3 linked regions of the Homo sapiens genome follow. The protein of the gene in region 3 purifies or fractionates together with the protein of the main gene of each other region. This does not show direct contact. Each region holds a gene or a part of one and is shown on either strand. Other genes may lie near its edges.

Region 1 (7,103 bases), on a different chromosome or scaffold from region 3:
TATTATTTTATAATAAAGTATTGGTTATCTCACATAATTTATTGAATACTGTACTAAAAGCAAAAAAACAGAATGGTATGTGTACTCAAAGTAAGTTTCTACTAAACTCATATTGTTTTCAAACATCATACAGTCAAAAACTCCTAAGTAGGACCATCGTAAGTTGGAGTGCAGCTGTATTAGAAAACTAGATCAAGAGGAAGAGGAGGGAGATGTAAAAAAAAAAAAAAAAAAGAAAGAAAAGAAAAATGAAAACTAGATCAATATATTTCATGAACAGTGAAACAAAAATTCTTAAAATATTAGCAAACTGAATATAGCAAGATAAAAAAATGGATTATTCACAATGACCAAGTAGGATTTAGCTTAGGAAAATAAGGTTGATTTAACATCCAAAAATAAATTGATATAATTCATTCATTAATAATGTAATAAAGTACAAAACCACATAATCATGTCAAGAGATTCAAAAAAAGCAATTGACAAAATCCAACATCCATTCATGACAAAAACTCTCAACAAACCAGGAATAGGAGTATCAGATCTTAGACTGAAAAAGTATCTCAGAATAACTGGAAGGTAGTGCTTTGAGATCAGTAACAATGTTTCAACCAACTTTAAAAAGTACTCCTTCCTATCATAAAGTTAAAAATAATATTAAAAGAAAACCAAACACTGCATGTTCTCTTATAAGTGGGAGCTGAACAATGAGAACACATGGGCACATGCAGGGAGCAGCACATACTAGGGTCTGTCGGAAGGGGCGGGAGGAGGAAGAGCATCAGGAAGAATAGCTAATGGATGCTGGGCTTAATACCTAGGTGATGGGTTGATTTGTACAGCAAACCACCATGGCTTACATTTACCTATATAACACACCTACCTGCACATGTACCCTGGAACTTAAAAGCTGAAAAAAAAAAATTCAATTATCTTAAAATGTCAAAAAACTTATGGAAGTAGATGACTTTTTAAAATTGTTCCTATTCTTTAAAACTTGTCAGAGAGACTGCAATTCACGAAATTCATTATCTAGATCCTTACACGGCTTTCGAAAGGTATCAAGGATACCAAAGAAAACACTTCGGTATTTATTCCATGGCCCTATATATCTCTCTACCTTTTGCATTCATACAGCCTAGTAGAAAACCTGGTAACCCCGCAACACTTAGTAGAGAACAGAATGGCTAGGCTATAGCAAAAGCGCTCTATCTCACACTCTCTTATTCTAAATATCTCCATATGTTCCCTATCTCTTTACCTGCCAGCCACATTCAATCTCCTTCCATCAATTATCCCTCAATATCACACTCTCAAGCCACAGCTGCCTAGCAGATACCAGAGACAGGTGACAGGGTCTTCATATAAACATACTCGTCCGCTCAAAAGGCCTTGGCCCCTCCAGGCATGCCCAATCCATGCCTTTATTCACAAGGGCACCCAACCAAGAGACTGTGACCCACCAGGAAATCATAAGGTCATGTTATTTAAACCTACCATCCCAGCTCTTCAATTTCCTTCCTTAACTCCCACTGTGAACTTTATTTTCACCATTTTTCTATGTGGGAAGGGGAACCTCCATTCTCACTCCATGCCAAGTAATCCCAAGACCTCATGAAAATGAAAATTAGCAGCTCTCCCTCCCCTAAATTTTAAAACCATTTCTACCTCAGAGAAGTACTGCCACAATGGGAGGCACTGCACTTGTAAACTTAGAAAATAATGACTAGTCTTAATTGGGCAAGGCAAACAGCACTGCATTTACTCATTTATGTGCTGTCTATGGCTGCTTTAGTACTAAAATGGCAGAGTTTAAGAATCCTCTCCGGTCAGGTGAAGTGGCTCATGCCTGTAATCCCAGGACTTTGGGAGGCCAAGGTGGGAGGATTGCTAGAGGCCAGGAGTTTGAGACCAGCCAGGACAACAGAGTGAGACATCATCTCTACAAAAAATTTAAAAATTAGCTAGGCATGGTAGCACATGCCTGTAGTACTAGCTACTTGGGAAGCTGAGGCAGGAGGATCACTTGAGCCCAGGAGGTCAAAGCTGCAGTCAGCCGTGATTGCATCACTGCACCCCAGCCTAAGCGACAACGTGGGCAAAAAAAAAAAACCAGAGAGAGACCTCAAAAAAAAAAAATCATTTCCTACCTAAGGTCACAGAGATATTTTGTATTTCTTAATAAACGTCTTAGTATTTTGTCACATTTAAGTATATAATCGAATTATAATTGATTTTGGGGTATGGTAAGAGGTAGGGATCTAATTTCTTATTAGAAACTATATGGCCACAAAGCCAAAAAATATTTACTGATTGGCGCTTCACAGAAAATGTTTGCTACCTCTAATCTTGACAATCAGAAGGAAGAAGTCATTAATGATGCTACTGGGGGGCTACTGCAAACTATATGCTAGAAGTTTCAAACAACAATAAACAATAATAACTTGCCCAGCAAAGTACCCCAAAATAAAGAGTCAGTTTGCACCTCAGTTCCAATGAATGTAGGACGAATATACAGACTAGCAGATGTTGAATATGGGACCCATTCTTGATCCAATTTCACAAGCTGTTGAATACACTCTAAGAGCTCTTCTTTGTCAAATACCTGAAAGAATGAAAAACATAATAAATGACAGAATTTTCTCACAATGTGGCAATAATAAATGATCCTCACTGAAGCATTTAAACTGTTAAAAAATTAATAATCCCAACACAAAAAAATAAGAAATGTTTGAGGTGATGGATATCCTAATTATCCTAATTTTTATTTATTTCTTTCTTATTTGTCCTAATCATTACACATTATATGCATGCATGAAAACATCAGTGTACCTCATAAATATGTATAATTTATGGTACCAATAAAAAAAATTTTAAAGTAATAATAAAACCAAACAATTTTTTCTGATTTTCCCCCCAAAAATTGTGATGGGATGACGAGCTATCCACATGTGAAAGATAAGATTAGATCCCTACATCTTACCATACCCCCCAATCAATTCTAATTAGATGATATACTTAAATGTGACAAAATACTAAGACTTTATTTAAAAAGTACAAAATATCTCTGTGACCTTAAGGTAGGAAAGGATTCTTAAGTAGGAGATGTAAAACACAAATCATGAAGGAAAAAAATGGATAAAATGTGACTATTTGAAACTTAAAGACTTCCGTTCTTCAAAAGATGTAAAGCAACAAACTGGGTGAAGTTATTGGTAGCATGATCAACAAAGAATTTTAACTGGTATATATATTTGGATATCCCCAAAGTCAATGAAGAGATAGATAACCCAATAGGAAAATGGGCAAAAGCAAAGAGCACTTTATTTCTAAAGAAAAAAAAATTACATCTACTAGATGGGTGATACTTCATAAAATAATTTAGTCTCTGCTCACTTGCAAAGTAGAGAAACATACTTTCAGAGATGTGATGGGTCACCTAAGGTAGAAATGAGTCAGTCATAAGCATCTGAGTAAAGCTCATGAAGTCAGAATTTGTCTATTTAAATATTGACCTGTAACAGCAATAATAATGTAGTAATGTTATAGAAATTGGGACTGCCAATCATATAGGTGAACCCTGTAGCACCTGCCTCAGCCCCTGGTATTGCTGTCTAGAGACAGAATTCAGTGAGAAGAGAACTTGACCAGGAATAAAAACACCTGGATCTAATTTCTTGCCCTGTCCTTTTGCTCTTTGTGACTTCAGACAAGTCATTTAATCTCTCTGGACTCAAGTTTTCTTCTCTGTACAAAGGCACTAATAAACTGTACAACAAATAATCTTCTTAGCAACGCCTTACTGCTGTGATTACACAGATAAGGAATGTGAAACTACATAACACAGTTTGGTAGCAAAATTGATGTCTAACAAATATTACTTCCCTTTCCTTCCAGCCCCATTTTAAAGACTTTTCCCCAGTGATCTAGCTGTAATGAGAAGAAGAGCGAAACTATGCCCTAGTCCAAAGAATTTACCTTAATTTCCCCTCTGCTACTATATTATGGCCTCCAAAGGAGATGGGTGAAATGCGGGTTACAAAAATAGGCAGAGGAATGAAGAACACTTGGATTTAGCCGTCCTCAGGCTTCCTGAATGCATAGGTTGGGCTAAATCCCTGAAGCTGGGCACGGTGGCTCATGCCTGTAATCCCAGAACTTTGGGAGGCTGAGGCAGGCAGATCACTTGAGGCCAGAAGTTCAAGTCCAGCCTGGCTAACATGGTGAAATCATGTCTCCACTAAAAATAATTTTTAAAAAAATTAAGCTGGGCATGGCTGCGTGCACTTGTAATCCCAGATACTAAGGAGGCTGAGGCACAAGAATCACTTGAACCCCGGAGGTGGAGGTTGTAGTGAGCCAAGATTGTGCCACTGCACTATAGCTTGGGTGACAGAGTGAGACTCTCTCTCAAAAAAAAAATCTAACCCATCTTACAATGATTTCTGCTCCATAAGAAACATTGTGACAGCCACGATTCAATGGCCATGAGAAACCATTTTGATATCTTTTTATCTCAAAACATTACTTAAGATAAAATATCAAAATAATTAAGTTACTATATCTTGCTAGCATCTAAAGCAATTAGGCAAAATATCCGCAAAATACCTGTGCTGCACACCATATTTTCCATTTTCAATATTAATTTCATGTGGTCTTCAAATATTATTTTAGGTTGAGATACATTTTTCTTCCTTACTCTTTCATCTCTCACTTGCATATGAATCCCCCACAGACACTGATTTTAAAAAATTGTGGAATTGCCAAATGATATTATTTTCTTGGGTTTTTTGTTTTTTGTTTTTTTTTTTTACAGAGTCTCACTTTGCGGCTTAGGCTGGAGGGCAGTGATGTGATTATCTTGGCTCACTGCAGCCTCCACCTGCCAGGTTCAAGCAATTCTCATGCCTCAGCCACACCGATGGGACCACAGGCATGTGCCACCAAACCCGGCTAATTTTTGTATTTTTTGCAGAGATGGTGTTTCACCATGTTGGCCAGGCTTGTCTCCAATTCCTGGTTTCAAGTGATCCACCCACCTCAGTCTCCCAGAGTGCTGGGATTATAGGAGTGAACCACCGTGCCCGGCCATTTTCTTGTATTTTTACCTAACTAAAGTAGATCAGAAATAATGTTAATGTTCATATGGTTTGTACTGAATATTTATCTAACTATTCAGAAATTATTTATTTGGTGGTCAACACCGTGACCCGTTACATTAAAAGAAACACAAAAGAAACTCCTACACTTACATACCGGCAGAGTTGCCCTCACAGCAGAGCGATACATTCTATCCATGTTGAGGTTTGGCTGAAACAGTCGAATTTTATTATCTACTCCTCGAAATGCCTTCAATCCTTCAAATAACTGGAGATCAAAGAGAAAAAATCTTAGAGGGTAACCAAAAGAAAACAACCCGTGTTCAAGAGACTGACTTTCCTATGGGCGTTCATCTTATTCATCCCATAAAGCTGTTGACATTGACCTCAACTTGAGATCATTAAATCCAGGAAAGCTAACAGTTGACAGGACTGGTAAAAACAATGGTTGAGGTGGAGGAAAGTTATTTTATTATCAGAATTTGGTAGGAATTCCGAGTTCTCCTCTGCTTAGCAGGAGCCACACTGCTGAATAACACATTTAGGTGTTATTTAAGGGAGCAGGAAGAAAACATCTAGAATCACACAGCACAGGTTAATTCCCTAGGCAATGGAGATCGAAACCAAAGGCCTTGTGGCACCGTGGCCCCCAAAGAGTACCCCCATATCCTTTCATGTAATCTGGTTCATTTGAATGCTGGATAGTAGATAATCCAGATGTGACCAGAGCTGGTTCAGTCCCTAAATCACAGAAACCAGGCAGCTCAAGACCATACTATGTTAAGCCACGTCACCTCCCTCAATCAAAGTGCTGTCCTGAACAAACCACTGATCAGGGATTTGAAAAGACTTCAGTAGATACATACTGATAAATACAGAGAAAGACAAAAATCAATAATTTTAGTGGGAAAATTTAACACAGCTTCTCTAAGTAATTTATAGAACAAACAGGCTAAACCTTAGTAAAGATATGCAAGATATGAACAACAGGAAGAACAAACTTCCCTAACTGATACAGAGAACTCTTACACAGACCAGCTGTAGAATTCACATATTTTCCAAACACAAGATAAGCCAGAAATCAATACCAAAAGTTTGACTGGACACCATCCATATTTTGGAAAATAAATCCACCACTAACTAAACCATAGGTCACAGAAGAAAAATGGAAATTAGAAAATAAGTTAAACTGAACGATAATGAAAAGTAAGGCCTTTAAAGATGTATACCCTAAAAACTTACATGGGAAAAAAAGAAATACAAATCATGTATAATTAAAAAGCATAAAATTAGATGTTGTATTTAAGTGCAAATATATTATTAGTTTATTAAATATAACAGTACTAAAGCTTCGGTTAAAATATAAGTTTGTTAGATTGGACTCAGCTGACAATATCTGAATCAAAAAGACAGAAAAAGATATATCATGCAAATACTTTATTTTTTATTATTTATTTTTTTTTTTTGAGACAGAGTTGTTTTTCTCTGTCACCCAGGCTGAATGAAGTTCAGTGGCAAGATCTTGGCTCACTGCAACCTCTACCCCCTGGGTTCAAGCAATCCTCCCACCTCAGCCTCCAGAGTAGCTGGGACTACAGGCGCGCACCACCACGCCCAAGTTAATTTTTTGTATTTTTTGTAGAGACGAGGTTTTGCCATGTTGCCTAGGCTGGTCTCGAACTCCTGGGCTCAAGTGATGTGCCTGCCTCGGCCTCCCAAAGTGCTGGGATTACAGGCATGAGCCACTGCACCTGGCCTGCAAATACTTTCTAAAATAAAACTGGCAAGCTTCCATTACTATTTATAAAACAAAAGAATTTAAGCCAAGAAGCACTACTGAAGATAAAAAAGGCAACTTCAAGGCTGGGTGTGATGGCTCACGTCTGTAATCCCAACACGTTGGGAGGCCAAGGCTGTTGGATCACTTGAGGTCAGGAGTTCGAGACCAGCCTGGACAACATGGTGAAACCCATCTCTACCAAAAATATAAAAATGAGCCAGGCA
Region 2 (7,103 bases), on a different chromosome or scaffold from region 3:
CTCACGCCTGTAATCCCAGCACTTTGGGAGGCCAAGGGGGGCGGATCACAAGATCAAGAGATTGAGACCATCCTGGCCAACATGGTGAAACCCCATCTCTAATAAAAACATAAAAAATTAGCTGGGCATGGTGGTGCGCACCTGTAGCCCCAGCTACTTGGGAGGCTGAGGCAGGGGAATCACTGGAACCTGGGAGGCGGAGGTTGCAGTGAGCCGAGATCACGCCACTGCACCAGCCTGGTGACAGAGTGAGACTCCGTCTGAAAAATAAATAAATAAAATAAATACATACATACAAACAAAAGAAAAACATCAAAATTTTTGATAAAGCATCAACCAATCTTAGGGGTTAAATTGCACGCTCCTAAGTTTCTATGTTGAAGTCCTAAGCCCCAGTACCTCAGAATGTGACCTGATTTGGAGACTAGGTCTTTACAGAGGGAATCAGGTTAAGATGAGGTCATTACTGTGGGCCCTAATCCAACATGATTGGTGACCTTATAAAAGGCAGAAATTTATGACTGGGCACAGTGGCTCATGCCTGTAATCCCAGCACTTTGGGAGACTGAGGTGGGAGGATCACTTGGGCTCAGGCATTCGAGACCAGCGTGGGCAACATGGTGAAACCCCATCTCTACAAAAAATATAAAAATTAGCTGTGTGCAGTGGTGTGTGCCTGTAGTCCCAGCTGCTCAGGAGGCTAAGGCAGGAGAATCACTTGAGCGTGGGAGGGGGAGGATGCAGTGAGCCGAGATCGCACCACTGCACTCTAGCCTGGAGGATAGAAGTGAAACCCTGTCTCAAAATAATAATAGGCCGGGCGCGGTGGCTCACACCTGTAATCCTAGCACTTTGGGAGGCCAAGGCGGGTGGATCACCTGAGGTCAGGAATTCGAAACCAGCCTGCCCAACATGGCAAAACTCCATCTGTACTAAAAATACAAAATTATCCAGGCGTGGTGGCGCGTGCTTGTAATCCCAGCTACTTAGGAGTCTGAGGCAGGAGAATCGCTTGAACCTGGGAGGCAGAGGTTGCAGTGAGCTGAGATCGCGCCACCGCACTCCAGCCTGGGCAACGAGAGCAAAACTCTGTCTTGGAAAAAAAAAAAAATAATAATAATAATAATTAATAAAAAATAATAATGGAAGGAGAAATTTGGGCCAGGCACACAGAGAGGAAAGATGGTGTGAAAATGCAGTGAGAAGACGGCCATCTGCAAGCCAAGGAGAGGGGCCTGGTACAGATCCTCCCTCATAGCCCCAGAAGGAACCAACCCTGCCAATACTTTCACTTTGGACTCTGACTGCAGGCCATGAGACAGTCAAGTTCTGTTGCTGAAGCACCTGGTCAGTGGTACTTGGTTACAGCGGCCTCAGCAAACAAGTGCAGCCTCCCTCATATGGGAGTTTCCAAGTAGTCAGGAAGGGGTAGGGTTTCCAGGCAGGAAAGGACAGCGCACACGCTGCCAACACACACTTACCGCACGCATGTCTCCCGAGGCTTCTAGGGGCCCAGGCCTGCGCTGTGCAATGCTGGACCCAAAATGAATCAGCCTGGCCCTGGCCTCCAGTGGCCCTTGGTTAGGTGGGGAGAAAGACACACACACACACACACACACACACACACACACACACACACCCCTTGGTCAAGTGGGCAGAAAGACACACACACACACACACACACACACACACACACACACACACACACACACGGGCAGCTAGAATTTGGGAGACCTAGGCTGCAGTGGAGGCAGCTCCGGCCCTGGCTGAGCCCAGAGGAGTGACAGGTGTGCAGGACACAGGTACAAACTGAATCTCAAATTCATTATTTGTGCCAGGGACGTGTGTTGAGCCGCTATTCCAGGCTGACCCAGCGCCGGCCGCTATGGACACAGCAGGAATCAAATGATGACAGAATTCTGACTCTTGGAGGCCAGGCGGGGTGGCTCATGCCTGTAATCTCAGCAATTTGGGAGGCTGAGGCGGGTGGATCACCTGAGGTCAGGAGTTTGAGACCAGCCTGGCCAACATGGTGAAACCCTGTCTCTACTAAAGATACAAAATTAGCCAGGTATGGTGGCGGGCACCTGTAATCCCAGATACTCAGGAGGCTGAGGCAGGAGAATCGCTTGAACCTGGGAGGCAGAGGTTGCAGTGAGCCGAGATCGCGCCACTGCACTCCAGCCTGGGCGACAGAGTGAGACTCTGTCTCAAAAACAACAACAACCAAAAGAGTTCTGCCTCTTGGAGCACCCAGTCTAGAGAGACAGAGAACAGGCGACCAAGGGATGAACAAAGGAATACCAAGGACACAAATAACACAGAGGCTCCTTCACACAGGACAGCCGGGGCGGTGACACCCTGAGGAGGTGACATTCCAGGGGAGATGGAAGGTCCATGGACCAGGCAAAGAGCCCTGAGAAAGAATGTCACGGGAGAGCGGGGCGAACGGACAAAGGTCCCAAGGCTGCACGCCAGCAATTTCTAAAAATGCTGACGCAAGAAGGTCAGGGTGCATACGGGAAGGGCAGGGTTGGGCGGGTGTGGCCAAGGTCCACCCAGGCTCCGAGCAGACAAGAGGAACATGAATGCGGGCCTGAGGGCACTGGGGTGCCGGGGGCAGGCTCTGGGCAGAGGAGGGACGGGAAGAGCCTGGGTGTTGTGGCAGCTGGATACTGGTGCCCTAAAAGATATCCACATCCTGATCCCCGGAACCTGTGAATGCGTGACCTTTCCGGGCTAAGGGGTCCTGGCGGATGGGATTACATTAAAGACCTTAAGATGGGGGCCAAGGCTGGTGGCTCAGGCCTGTAATCCCAGCACTTTGGAAGGCCGAGACAGGAGGATCACTTGAAGTCAGGAGTTCAAGACCAGCCTGGCCAACATGGCAAAATCAAGTATCTACTAAAAATACAAAATTAGCCAGGTGTGGTGGCACACACCTGTAATCCCAGCTACTTGGGAGGCTGAGGCAGGAGAATTGCTTGAACCCAGGAGGCGGAGGTTGCAGTGAGCCGAGATCGCGCCACTGTAGTGCAGCCTGGGAGACAGAGCAAGATTCTGTCTCACCAAAAAAAAAAAAAAAAAAGGCCAGGCGCGGTGGCTCACACCTGTAATCCCAGCACTTTGGGAGGCCGAGGTGGGCGGATCACGAGGTTAGAGATCAAGACCATCCTGGCTAATACAGTGAAATTCCGTCTCTACTAAAAATACAAAAAATTAGCTGGGCATGGTGGCGGGCGCCTGTAGTCCCAGCTACTTGGGAGGCTGAGGCACAAGAATGGCGTGAATCCAGGAGGCGGAGCTTGCAGTGAGCCGAGATTGCACCACTGCACTCCAGCCTGGGTGACAGAGCGAGACTCTGTCTCAAAAAAAAAAAAAGAAAGATATTAGCTGAGCAAGGAAAAACAGTGTGACCTGATAAATCTCCCGATTTTATCGCTGTACTTATGCAAGAGTATCACACTGAAATGTGTAAGGGTGATGAGATGGTGACTGTGGTGAAGTCCCAAACGTGAGTGACAAAGCAAATGGAGCAAATGTTAACTAGAGAAGCCAGGTCAGGGGTGTTTGGGAGTTTTCTGTACTACTCTTACAACTTTTCTAAAAGTTTGAAGTTCTTTCAACTTTTTTTTTTTGAGATGGGATCTTGTTCTGTCGCCCAGGCTGGAGTACAGTGGCGCAGTCATGGCTCACTATAGCCTTGACATCCCAGGCTCAACGATCCTCCCACCTCAGCTTCCTAAGGAGGTGGGACCACAGGCATGCATTACCATGCCCAGCTTATTTTTTAATATTTTTTATAGAGACAGGGGTCTTGCTATGTTGCCCAGGCTGGTTTTGAACTTCTGGGCTCGAGTGATTCTCCTGCCTCAAAAAGTGTTGGAATTGCAGGCGTGAGCCACTGCACCCGGCCTCTACCAGAATTTTAAATGACAATTTTTTTTTTTTTTTTTTGAGTCAGAGTTTCACTCTGTTGTCCAGGCTGGAGTGCAATGGTGCGATCTCGGCTCACTACAACCTCCGCCTCCCGGGTTCAACCAATTCTCCTGCCTTAGCCTCCTGAGCAGCTAGGATTACAGGCGTGCACCACCATGCCCGGCTAATTTAGTATTTTTAGCAGATATGGGGTTTCACCATGTTGGCCAGATAGTCTCCAATTCCCGACCTCAGGTGACCTGCTTGCCTCAGCCTCCCAAAGTACTGGGATTACAGCCGTGGGCCACTGTGCCCAGCCCATGATAAAGATTTTTAAAAACAACAAATGGAAACAGAATATAAACAAACAACATTGTAATGTTAATATTAAATCATGCTGGGAGGAACACTGGGGCAATCTCCCACGCACATTTCAGCACATTTCGCAGCGGGGAGGGAGGCCTCACCTGCCTAGCACACAACCACCTGGAGGCCGGGAGTGAGGCCACCCTTCCCCACCCCTCCCTGCCTGTCCCTCCCGCCCTGCCCCTGCTCACTGGGATCCTGCTCGGCGTCCATCTTGGCCTTGAGCAGCATCCGCAGCCGTGACACCTCCTGTCGCTTGAGCTCATCCAGCTTGGTGCGGACGTGGTGGCTGACAAAGTCCAGCTCTCGGCTCAGCTTCCCGCTCTGACAGGAGAGGAGACCCTGGTCAGCCTGGGGGCCTGCTCTCTGTCTTCTCTGGAAGCTTCTTATAAGCTTTCTCATGCCCCAGTCTTATACTGCCCCTTCCCTGCTTATAGTCCCCCAGCTCCTCAGAGTCTCCAGGAAGGACAGCTCCCAGCCCGTCAGCCTGGCATTCAAGGCCCTGCCCACCTGTGCTGCCCCATCTCCTGTCATTCATCAAGCCACATGTTTAGGGGCCAGGTGCGGTGGGTCACGCCTGTAATCCCAGCACTTTGGGAGGCTGAGGTGGGAGGATCTCAAGATCAGCCTGGGCAACATGGCAAGTCCCTGTCTCTAGAAACAATACAAAATTAGCCGTGCATGGTGGTGAGACCCAGGTCCATGAGAAGGACAGATCCTGATACGAGGGTTCAGTGTCCTACTCAGTGAAATGGGGACAATGATGGTGCTCCTAGAGGCCTGATATGGGAGTTCATGGTGATGTAAGGGACACCAGCACCTCCCTTATTTTGAATTCTTCCTCTGTAGAAGGCACCATAGGAGCATTCTGTTGACGCAGCCCTCCCACAACACTTGCTAAGGAGTGTCACCATGCTCTTCCAAACCCTTTACACATCTTCCTTTGGAAAATCCAAACCCCAAAATCCTTCCCTTGGAAAATCCAAATCCGAACTGTGCAGCAGGTTCTATGATGTCTCCCATTTTACAGGTGGGGAAACTGAGGCACGGTGAGGGGAGGCCCCATAGCTGGTAAGCGGCGGAGCTGCGACTGAAAGCCTGCCCACGGGACTCTGCACTAAACACGTATTCTGTGTTCCCCAAAGCTCTTCCCAGCTTGTGACCCCAAGAAGCAACTTCTCCCTGAGTCTTACTTTGGTGATTTTCAAATACAGGCACAGCTGGAGCCATGTGGCCCCTTTGAAGAAACCAGTATGGTCAGGCATGGTGGCTCATGCCTGTAATCCCAACACTTTGGGAAGCCGAGATGGGAGGATCACGAGGTCAGGAGTTCGAGACCAGCCTGGCCAACATGGTGAAACCCCGTCTCTACTAAAAATACAAAAATTAGTCAGGCATGGTGGTGTACGCCTGTAATCCCAGCTACTTGGGAGGTTGAGGCAGGAGAACTGCTTGAACCTGCGGGGTGGAGGTGCAGTGAGCTGAGATCGCACCATCGCACTCCAGCCTGGGTGACAGAGCAAGACTCCGTCTCAAAAAAAAAAAAAAAGAAACCAGTCCTCCCCTGAACTCTGCCCTCCCAGCACGTACCCCTCCCACAGCCCCCACTCCCCCAGCCGCACCTTGATGTCCTCCGCATTGGCAGCCTGCAGCTTCTCTCGGAAATGCCCATCCGTCTCCAGTACATCGATGACCTCCTGGAGGTACCGGTGGTAGTACAGGCCTGTGTCCTGAGGCAACAAGGACAGACATAGCAGCCCCTGCTCCCATCCCCATCCCCACCCTCACTCCTGTTACTGCTATGGCCTGCTCCCTGGGGCAGCTGACAAGGGACTCAGTTTTTACCTTTTCCCACATATGCAGCAAAGATGAAATGAAAATCACATCAGTGAACACCCAGCCCAATACTGCCCAGAGTGGGTGCTCAGAGTGGACATGACTTGTTGGGAAGCTGTGAATCATACTTTTATCCATCCATCCAACCATCCATCCATCCATGCATCCACCCATTCATCCATGCATCCACCCACCCATCCATCCATACATCCCACCCACCCATCCATACATACATCCTACCCACCCATCTATCCACCCATCATCCATCCATCCATCCACCCATCCATCCACTCATCCATCCATCCACCCACCCACCCATCCATCCATCCATCCACCCATCCATCCATCCACCCACCCATCCATCCATCCATCCATCCATCCACTCATCCATCCATCCATCCACTCATCCACCTGCCCATCCATCCACCCACCTATCCATCCATCCATCCATCTATCCATCCATCCATCCACTCATCCACCCACCCATCCATCCACCCGCCCATCCATCCACTCATCCATCCATCCACCCACCCATCCATCCATCCACCCACCCATCCATCCATCCACTCATCCACCCACCCATCCATCCACCCGCCCATCCATCCAACCACCCGTCCATCCATCCATCCACTCATCCACCCACCCATCCATCCACCCGCCCATCCATCCACTCATCCATCCATCCACCCACCCATCGATCCATCCACCCACCCATCCATCCATCCACTCATCCACCCACCCATCCATCCACCCGCCCATCCATCCACCCGCCCATCCATCCAACCACCCATCCATCCATCCATCCACTCATCCACCCACCCATCCATCCACCCGCCCATCCATCCAACTGCCCATCCATCTACCCACCCGCCCATGCATGCATTCATTCATTCAACAAACATTCACCAGGCCCCTATCATATGCCAGGCACTGTGAACAACACAGACAAAAGTCCCAGGCCTCCTAGTCCCACCCCCGTCATG
Region 3 (7,974 bases):
TGACGGGGCAGTGAGGTTACCATCCCCAGTGCCCCACAGGCCAAAGGCCCAAGGTCTCCAGAGAAAGTCGCAGAGCAGGAAGATGACACCTGGGACTCACAGCCACCCTGCCCGCCCTGAGGGCCCAACAGTGAGCAAGGCGGGGGCTGTGGAGGATGCAGGGCTCGGAGCCTGCGAAGCAGTGCGTGGTCAGGAACTGCAGTTTTAATGGCTCGTTGCTGCCGGCGGATCAGGAGAGGTTCGGCATCCCGACCCAGCGCCTCCGGAACAGTTCTTCCAAGTGGACTTCCAGCACACCTAGGGCAGCAGACGCCACCCAGATCCTCGGAGGCCAGGGCCTTCGCCTCCCTCACACCTCTCTGTCACACTGTGGGGACAGCAGGGTCCCATGGGGCCGCTGGACACTGGATCAGACAAATGCCTGGAGGGCCCCCTTGGACAATCCCCAGCCCTCCCAAGGCTGAGAGGACACGCCTCTCTGCCCGCCACCCCATGTGTCGCCCCCACCTCTGAGGACAGTCCCAAGGTGCCTGTCCATCCAGCCATGCTGCCCTTCGGCCCCTCTCAGCCTGCCCCACTCTGCAAGTGGGGTCACAGTGGCATCCATATCCCAGGGCACAATTGGCATGATGCCCACAGCGCTGTGGCTCAGCTCCCAGCCAAGCCGAGTGCTCCTCCCAGGGGACCTAGGGGCAGGGCGTGGGCTGGCAGGCAGCGCCCCCAAGGCCCAGCTCACCTGAGGCGGGTCGCTGGCACAGACCTCCGCAGAGATGCCCAGGACCTGCAGGATGTGCTCCTTGGGGACGTAGTCGCCTGGGGACTTCTGGACGAAATGCAGGAGCACTTTATCACCACCTGTAGCAGCGGGCAGGCAGTCACGGCACCCCGGAGGCCGCCTGCACCTCACAGCCACATACCAGGAGGAGGGAGGGTAGGGCAGCCCTGGCCAGCCATATCCCCCACCCGGCTACCCAGATGAGTGAGCTGTTCTGCCACAGCCCCACTCAGCCCAGCAGACACGCAGAACCAGGCCACATTGCGGCGGAGGGGCTGTGATGAGACTGACAAGCCAGAGAGAGGGCCTGGGCTGGGCCACCAAGTTCAGCAAGGCCCTCCTTGAGGCAGTGGCCGAGGCCCCTCCCTCGACCCACCTTTGCTGACCACCAGCAGCCCTCCGCTCTGCAGCAGGTCCCCAGACAAGTTCCCCTGGATGCCAACAGCCTTGGCCTGTCAGGAGTGGGTACAGCCTGAGTCAATCCTAGAAGAAAGGCTCCTGGGAGCTCCCACCACCCCCCGGCCTGTACACCCTTGACCCGCACACACCTTGGCAGCCACATCACGCACGGGCTTCCCCAGAGCTGCTGGGAGGATGCTCAGGCTGTTGTACCTGCGAAGACACCAGGTCGCTTGGCCAAACTCCGGAGAAGCCTGGGTCCAGAGCCTGCTCCAGTGTCCATGAGACCAGTTCCTAGGTCAGGCCCCACCCCACCCACCCGCCTCACCAGGGCTCAGAGATGGCACAGGCGACCAGATCAGTAGCCAGCCCAGCCCACCGGCAGGTTGGACACCGAGCCCAGTGGCTGCTAGCCGAGGGTCCACAGAGGGTGCAGGGAGCATGGATGGGGCCCCAGGCTGGGTGTGCCCAGGGATCTGGCTCAGCTGGCAACTGCCAAGCAAAGGAAGCAGCCTGTGGCACAGACACCAGAAAGCTAGGATGGCCCCTGATGGGCCACGAGGCTCCACCCCACGAGGTGGTCTGGACACCGAGAGTAAGCCCCGGACGAGGTGGCTCATTACAGTCACCCAGCACCCAAGAGAAGGCCTGGCAGAAGGGCTGGTCAACAGTGCCACCAGAGCCGCCTTGCCCAGGAAGGCCCGAGTGGACAGCACCACAGAGGGCAGCAGGGAGAGGAGGTGGCAGGGAGCGGTGGGAACCCCTGGGCCCCCCACCCCACGCTACCCAAGGGTTCCCGCCCCCACTCACCGCTTGAAGCCTAGCTCCTTGTAAAGCTGCTTGCTCTCATCCAGGTAGAGCTCTGGAAAGCGGAAGCCACATGTGTGTGCCCCAGGCGCAGAACCAGCCCCCAACCCACTCACCACAAAGAATCGCCCTCCTCCTTCCGACCCTCTGTTCCTCTGCCCACCCTCCGTGCTCAGCCCACCCCCGCAGGGCAGGGAGGGGTAAAACGGGGCTGAGTGTCCCCCCTCCCCTCAGAAGAGGGGCTGAGTCCCAGAGGCAACAGGTGGAGCCGGCGGGGCAGAGCTCGTCCAGACTCTGCTGCTGGGCCCAGGTCTGTGCAGGGCACCACCCAGCCACCAGCTGCGGGGCGGGGAGGCAGGGAGAGATGAGGGACGCTGACCCGTGGGCATATCAAGGCCGCTCCAGCAGACAGAAGGGCCGGGGTTGGGCAGGAAAGGGCCCCGAACGCCCTGAGCTTAGGGAAGGGTATGTGCGCCGCCGCGGCGGGGAACAGGACGCACCTCCCGCGAAGTAGTCGCCGTCCAGGAACTCCTGCAGACCCAGGGCCTCGGGCCCTACGCCCACCAGGCGCACGCCGTGTTGGTCCAGGAGCCCAGCAAGGCTGCTGAGGTCCTGGGCGATCCAGCGGCACACCACGCACCCGAAGCGCCGCAGCCCGGCCACCACGCACGCGTGCTCCCGCCACAGGCTCCGCAGCTCCACGGCCTGCCGGGCGGCTGGGTCATGGGCGCGCCCCGTTGCCCCCAGCCCCGCCCAGGCCCCGCGGCCCCCACCACCCCATCGCTGCCAGGACGCCCGGGCAAGGAGCCAGGGACGCGCCCACCGCCCTGCGTCCACCCGGCCTCACCTCCCCGGTCACCGCATGCTTCAGGATGCACGCGCCCACGCGAGCAAGGTCCACCGTGCTCATGGCGGCCGCTGCCAGCCCTGGTTCCCGGCTCCCCGACTCCCTGTTCCCCGCTCCCGGCTCCTCGCTCCTGGATCCCCGCTCCCGGCTCATAGATCCAGCCCCAAGCCCCGCCCCGAGATGCCCCGGTCCCGCCTTTCTTGCTGCCGCCGAGGCCCCGCCCCTTCGGGCTCGTCTCCGCCCCGGGCCCGCCCCCAAGATGGCCGCAGCGCGCCCCGGCCACGCCCCCGACCGCACCCCGAGCCCTGCTCCGCCCCCTCGGATTCGCCCCTAGTCCCGCCTTGTTTCCCCTCCTACTCCAGGCCAAGCCTCGAGATCGCGGCGCCAAATCCTGGGTCCGCCTGCTTCGGTCCCTCCCGCCTCCTCAATCCGGGCCTTGCGGGACAGTTGCTGTCCCGCGTCCTGGTCCCGCCCCTAGCCCCGCCTCTCCGTTGGGCCGCCGACTTGGACCCCGTCGGCCATTGGCGCAGCAGGCGGAGCTGGGCGGTGCGGCCCTCGGTGCGCGGTGCGCCTGTGCGGAATGCGGCGGGAGGCGGGCAGCCGGCTCGGGGTCGTCCCGGGGGGCGCCGGGGAGCGGCTGGGTACGGTGGGCCCAGGGGTGGTCCAGGGAGCGGCGGGGGTCTCCCTGCGGCCTCGCGCGAGACTGGGCTGGACTCAGGGTTGAGGGGAGAGGGTGAGCGCAGGGGTCGCGGGCATAGGGGACCGCGGGCCGGGGTCTCCCGCGGGGCGGGGGTCCCAGCAGTGGGGGGCGGGGGGGTGCGAGGGCTTAGCCTTTCCACGTGGCCTGGTTTTCGCTTGAAAATCCCCGCAAATGCGGCAGCATCTCAATTATACATGGACGCGATGTCTTTAATCATGAAATACTGTTCATGTCGTGCCGGTTGCATATCAGCTTTTAACCCGCCAAACCTTGGGGCGAAATAGACCCCGGGGAGATAAGCACAGCTCCCAGAAGTGCACTGCGGGTCAGGTGCCTGGCAGATGCGTCCTGTTCCTCCCCCACTGCAGCCCTGTGATAGCTTTTGTCACCGAGTTGGGGTGAGGGCCGGGTCACAGCTTCACCCGGCCTGGGCTCCCACCTGAGCGGGCCCGGCCTGGCAGAGTCTGTGCTGCTGGCACGGGTCCTCACTCCCCAGGCCCCAGGACAGCTCCAGGGGCCTGGGCGGGCTGGAGAAGGAAGGGGGAGCCCCCACACTGTATTCCAAATAAAGAGAGGCCCCGGGGGGGTGCTGCTGCTTCGCCTGTGCCCTCGCCCTGGGGTGGTGAAGGTCCAGACTGCGAAACGGAAGTCGTCACTATGTCAGAAAGGGCAAAAAGCAAAACAAGGAAGGGGAAGCACTAGGAGGGAGGAGCTGTGGCAGCTCCAGAGCCCAGGAGTGCAGCCCCCAGAGACCAGGGCTACCCCTCTACCGTCTCGGGCTGTGCAGGAGGGGCCCTCTACCCTCTGGAGTTGTGCAGGAGGGGGCCCCTCTACCATCTGGGGCTGGGCAGGAAGGGCCCCCCCCCACCGTCTCAGGCTGTGCAGGAGGGGGCCCCTCTACTGTCTCGGGCTGTGCAGGAGGGGGCCCCTCTATCTTCTGGGGCTGTGCAGGAGGGGGCCCCTCCACTGTCTCAGGCTGTGCAGGAGAGGGCCCCTCTGCCGTCTGGGGCTGTGCAAGCAGTGAGCAAGCTGCCGCCTCCTTGGGAGCTGGGATCCCAGACGGGATTCAGCCATTTTCAGAGACGTTCCCAGAAACGAGAATGCGAGATCAATTCCTCGCCTGGCATCTCCCACCAACGCCATCGCTGCAGGAGCCTCACTGGAAGCCAACGGGCAGAGGAGAGTGGGAAAGGAGCTTGCAGCCTCCCAGCTCCAGTGATGCAGAGCAGAAGGTGGCTGGGAGGCTGAGAAGCCATAAGAAAATAGCAGGGCCAGCCCATGTGGCCGCTCAGATACATGCTATGTGTGTGTTTGCATATGTAGGGGCTGAAAAACTCCACCTCCATCCTTTTGAGGTCCTGGCTGGGCCCAAGAGTTAAATCAAGATAAGACAGATCATCATGCCAGTGTATTTGATTAAAGTTGGATGTGGCTCAGGAGCCCTCCTAAGGAAGTGAAGACCCAGTGAAGCAGACTCAGTCGTGTGCTGAGTTGGACAGAGAACAGTGAGGTTTGAGGAAGCAGCTAGATGATGTGGGGGGCTGAAAAGGTGAGAGGCATTTTATCAGGGACTGTACAGCATTTGCTGGGTCTCAGCTTCTCATCCTTGAGGATCAGAGCTTTCTAGTGTAGGGAGAGCATCTTTCACCTGGGAATTTCATCTTCTGCTTTTAAGAAACACAAGAGAGATCAGAATGATCTTTTTGCACCTGTTATTGTTTTAACTGCCTTTAATTCCTAATAGTGACTATGCCAGAGCAGCCTATTTTGGGGTGGCACCTTCTTAACTCTGCATACTGTACATATCTGGCACACATCATTTAAAGTAAATAGACAGGCTTGCTTACTTTTTACTCAAGTGCAACATAATTCAGAAAAGTGCAGACATGCTCAGTAGACAGCTCCTTCTACACGCCTGTTGACTTTCTTTCATCAATGACATATTGGTCGGCTCTTGCTAGGCTGTGTTGCCAAAACAACTCGCAAGCCTGGGTCGATCACAGCAACCAAGTTTCCCCTCCCACTCAGGTTTCTTGTCGGCCACGGGTGGCTCAGCTTCTGATGCCTCCTTCGTTCTGGGGTCCAGGCTGAGCAAGCTGTGGCTCTCTGGAACATGCCGTTCTCCTGACAAGGGAGGACATGGAGGAGAGATGGAGAAACCATGCCACACTCTCCCAGCGGCCATGCACAGCTGGGATGTGTCGCTTGCACTCCCATGTCACTGGCCAGAGCAAGTCACATGGCCAAGGAGGGGCAGGGAAGAGCACTTCCTCCTCCAGGTGGTGCCAGCTCTGGGACTGGGTTTTAGCTTTCCTTACAAAGGAAGAGCTGGCCCGTTACCGCAGCAGGGATGCTGACAGAAGACGTGAAACTCCGGGGTCAGAGACAAAGGACTTTTTCATTCATGGCGTGGCAGGCAGGTGCTCACCTGTGTGTTTGGTCTTATCCCCTTGCCCCCAAATTCCACGGGTGCCATGTGGGTAGGCCTGGGTGGGCACTGCACAGTCAGTAGGTTTGCGTGGCCACTGAGGAGCCCTGCACTGGGGGAGTCAGCTGTTTCTGCAGCAAGCAGTGAGCAAGCTGCTCTTTGTCCCTAGAGGACTCTCAGGGCAAACCACCCTGAGAAATGGGGGAGGGTACTCAGGGCCTGCATTCCTGGCACACCCTGTGAGAGGTGGGGGGCACGAGACACTCGTGGAGGACTGCCCTCTTAACAGGAGAAGCTGCCAGTACCAGAGGCCAAAGAGACTTACCCAGAGATTTCACCGGCATCCCTGGGCTGCCTGGTGCCACATATGTGAAAACAGTCATTTCATGTAAGCTTGTCCACTCAGTAGCATGAAGGTGGGAGGGTGTCTTAGTCATAGATGGGGTGGCTTCTAAAGAACAGAAATTGATTTCTCACATTTCTGGAGGCTGGAGGTCCAAGATCAAAGCGCCGGCATATTCAAGGTCTGGCGAGGACCCCTTCCTGGTTCCTAGATCACTTCTTCATGCTGTGTCCTCACAGGGTGGAAGGCATGAGGGGGCTCTGGGGGGCCTCCTTTTTAAAGGCACTAACTTTGGCCGGGTGTTTTGGCTCACGTCTGTAATCCCAGCACTTTGGGAGGCCGAGGTGGGCGGATCACCTGTAGTCAGGAGTTCGAGACCAGCCTGGCTAACATGGTGAAACCTTATCTCTACTAAAGATACAAAAATTAGCTGGACGTGGTGGAGCATGCCTGTAATCCCAGCTACCCGGGAGGCTGAGGCAGGAGAATCACTTGAACTTGGGAGGCAGAGGTTGCAATGAGCCAAGATCATGCCACTGCCTCCCAGCCTAGGCGACAGAGTGAGACTTCGTCTCAAAATAAAATAAAATACATAAATAAAAGCACTAACCCATTCCCGAGGGCTCCACCCTCACTACCCACCTAAGCACATGCCGAAGCCCCACCTCATAATGTCATCACATTAGGGATTCGGTTTCAGCATATGAACTGGGGGAGGGGGCACAAATGGGGGAAACTGGCTCCACTGTGTGAAAATTGTCAATACTAAGGCAGAGTCACTTATGTCAGGACCCAAGCAAAACGGAGCTGGGAGGCCTCAACGGAAGGTCCCTCATGCTCGGGTGCCTATGATGAGAACTGTTACAGGGACTCCGACAGCACACAACATTCCAGATCAGCTGCTCCTATGAAGACATCTCCCCCGCAACAATCATGTTACCCATGAGTAATCACCAACCCTGCAATAAGCTCCTGTACCCAGGGAGGTTTATTCCAAAACAATCTGTGTAGACTTCCTCTTCCCACCCCTAAAAGAAAGATACACCTACGGTCCCCCTCAGCATGCATATCCCAGATTGCAATCCCCTGCCATCCCCCAGTAAACTTTATTTGGGAGAGCCAGTCTCTCTGTTGTTTATTTTACATTGACAAGTTGCAGCATCGTGGCCAGCAGCAGAAGTCCTACTAGGCTTCTTGAGTCTGTGGGTTGGTATCTTTAATCAGTTTGGGAATTCTTTTATTTTATTTGTTTGTTTGTTTGTTTTGAGATGCAGTTTTGCTCTTGTTGCCCAGGCTGGAGTGCAACGGCTCGATCTCAGCTCGCTGCAACCTCTGCCTCTTGGGTTCAAGCGATTCTCCTGCCTCAGCCTCTGGAGTAGCTGAGATTACGGGTGCCCACCACCCATGCCCAGCTAACTTTTGTATTTTAGTAGAGACAAGGTTTCACCATGTTGGTCAGGCTGGTCTTGAACTCCTGACTTCAGGTGATCCACCCGCCATGGCCTTCCAAAGTGCTGAGATTACAGGCGTGAGCCAGCGTGCCCGGCTGGGAATTCTTTTTTTTTTAACACTATCTTATGATGTCTCATTCTTTCCTTCCTTCCTTCCTCTTATTCTGGGAAGCCCCATACGCATATATTAGATCTTTTAACTAATGCGTCTTGTTGAGTCGGAG

What was found.
Region 1: the proteins of PRXL2B (region 3) and BCAT1 purify together in Homo sapiens (affinity purification with mass spectrometry; 2 studies listed by BioGRID and IntAct, with this or other methods). This does not show direct contact.
Region 2: the proteins of PRXL2B (region 3) and NUCB1 purify together in Homo sapiens (affinity purification with mass spectrometry; 3 studies listed by BioGRID and IntAct, with this or other methods). This does not show direct contact.

Annotation. Positions count from the first base shown.
Region 1 is NC_000012.12:24,876,045-24,883,147, forward strand, and holds part of BCAT1 (branched-chain-amino-acid aminotransferase, cytosolic), read right to left. Parts: intron 5,368-7,103; coding exon 5,257-5,367; intron 2,606-5,256; coding exon 2,486-2,605; intron 911-2,485; coding exon of another isoform or gene 884-910; intron 1-883.
Region 2 is NC_000019.10:48,903,258-48,910,360, reverse strand, and holds part of NUCB1 (nucleobindin-1 precursor), read right to left. Parts: intron 6,015-7,103; coding exon 5,907-6,014; intron 4,609-5,906; coding exon 4,476-4,608; intron 1-4,475. UniProt on the Homo sapiens protein: Major calcium-binding protein of the Golgi which may have a role in calcium homeostasis. Acts as a non-receptor guanine nucleotide exchange factor which binds to and activates alpha subunits of guanine nucleotide-binding proteins (G proteins).
Region 3 is NC_000001.11:2,581,803-2,589,776, reverse strand, and holds the start of PRXL2B (prostamide/prostaglandin F synthase), read right to left. Parts: upstream 3,001-7,974; 5' UTR 2,982-3,000; coding exon of another isoform or gene 2,892-2,981; coding exon 2,829-2,891; intron 2,687-2,828; coding exon 2,482-2,686; intron 2,037-2,481; coding exon 1,985-2,036; intron 1,442-1,984; coding exon of another isoform or gene 1,388-1,441; coding exon 1,324-1,387; intron 1,248-1,323; coding exon of another isoform or gene 1,228-1,247; coding exon 1,152-1,227; intron 856-1,151; coding exon 737-855; intron 368-736; coding exon 350-367; coding exon of another isoform or gene 298-349; 3' UTR 1-297. UniProt on the Homo sapiens protein: Catalyzes the reduction of prostaglandin-ethanolamide H(2) (prostamide H(2)) to prostamide F(2alpha) with NADPH as proton donor. Also able to reduce prostaglandin H(2) to prostaglandin F(2alpha).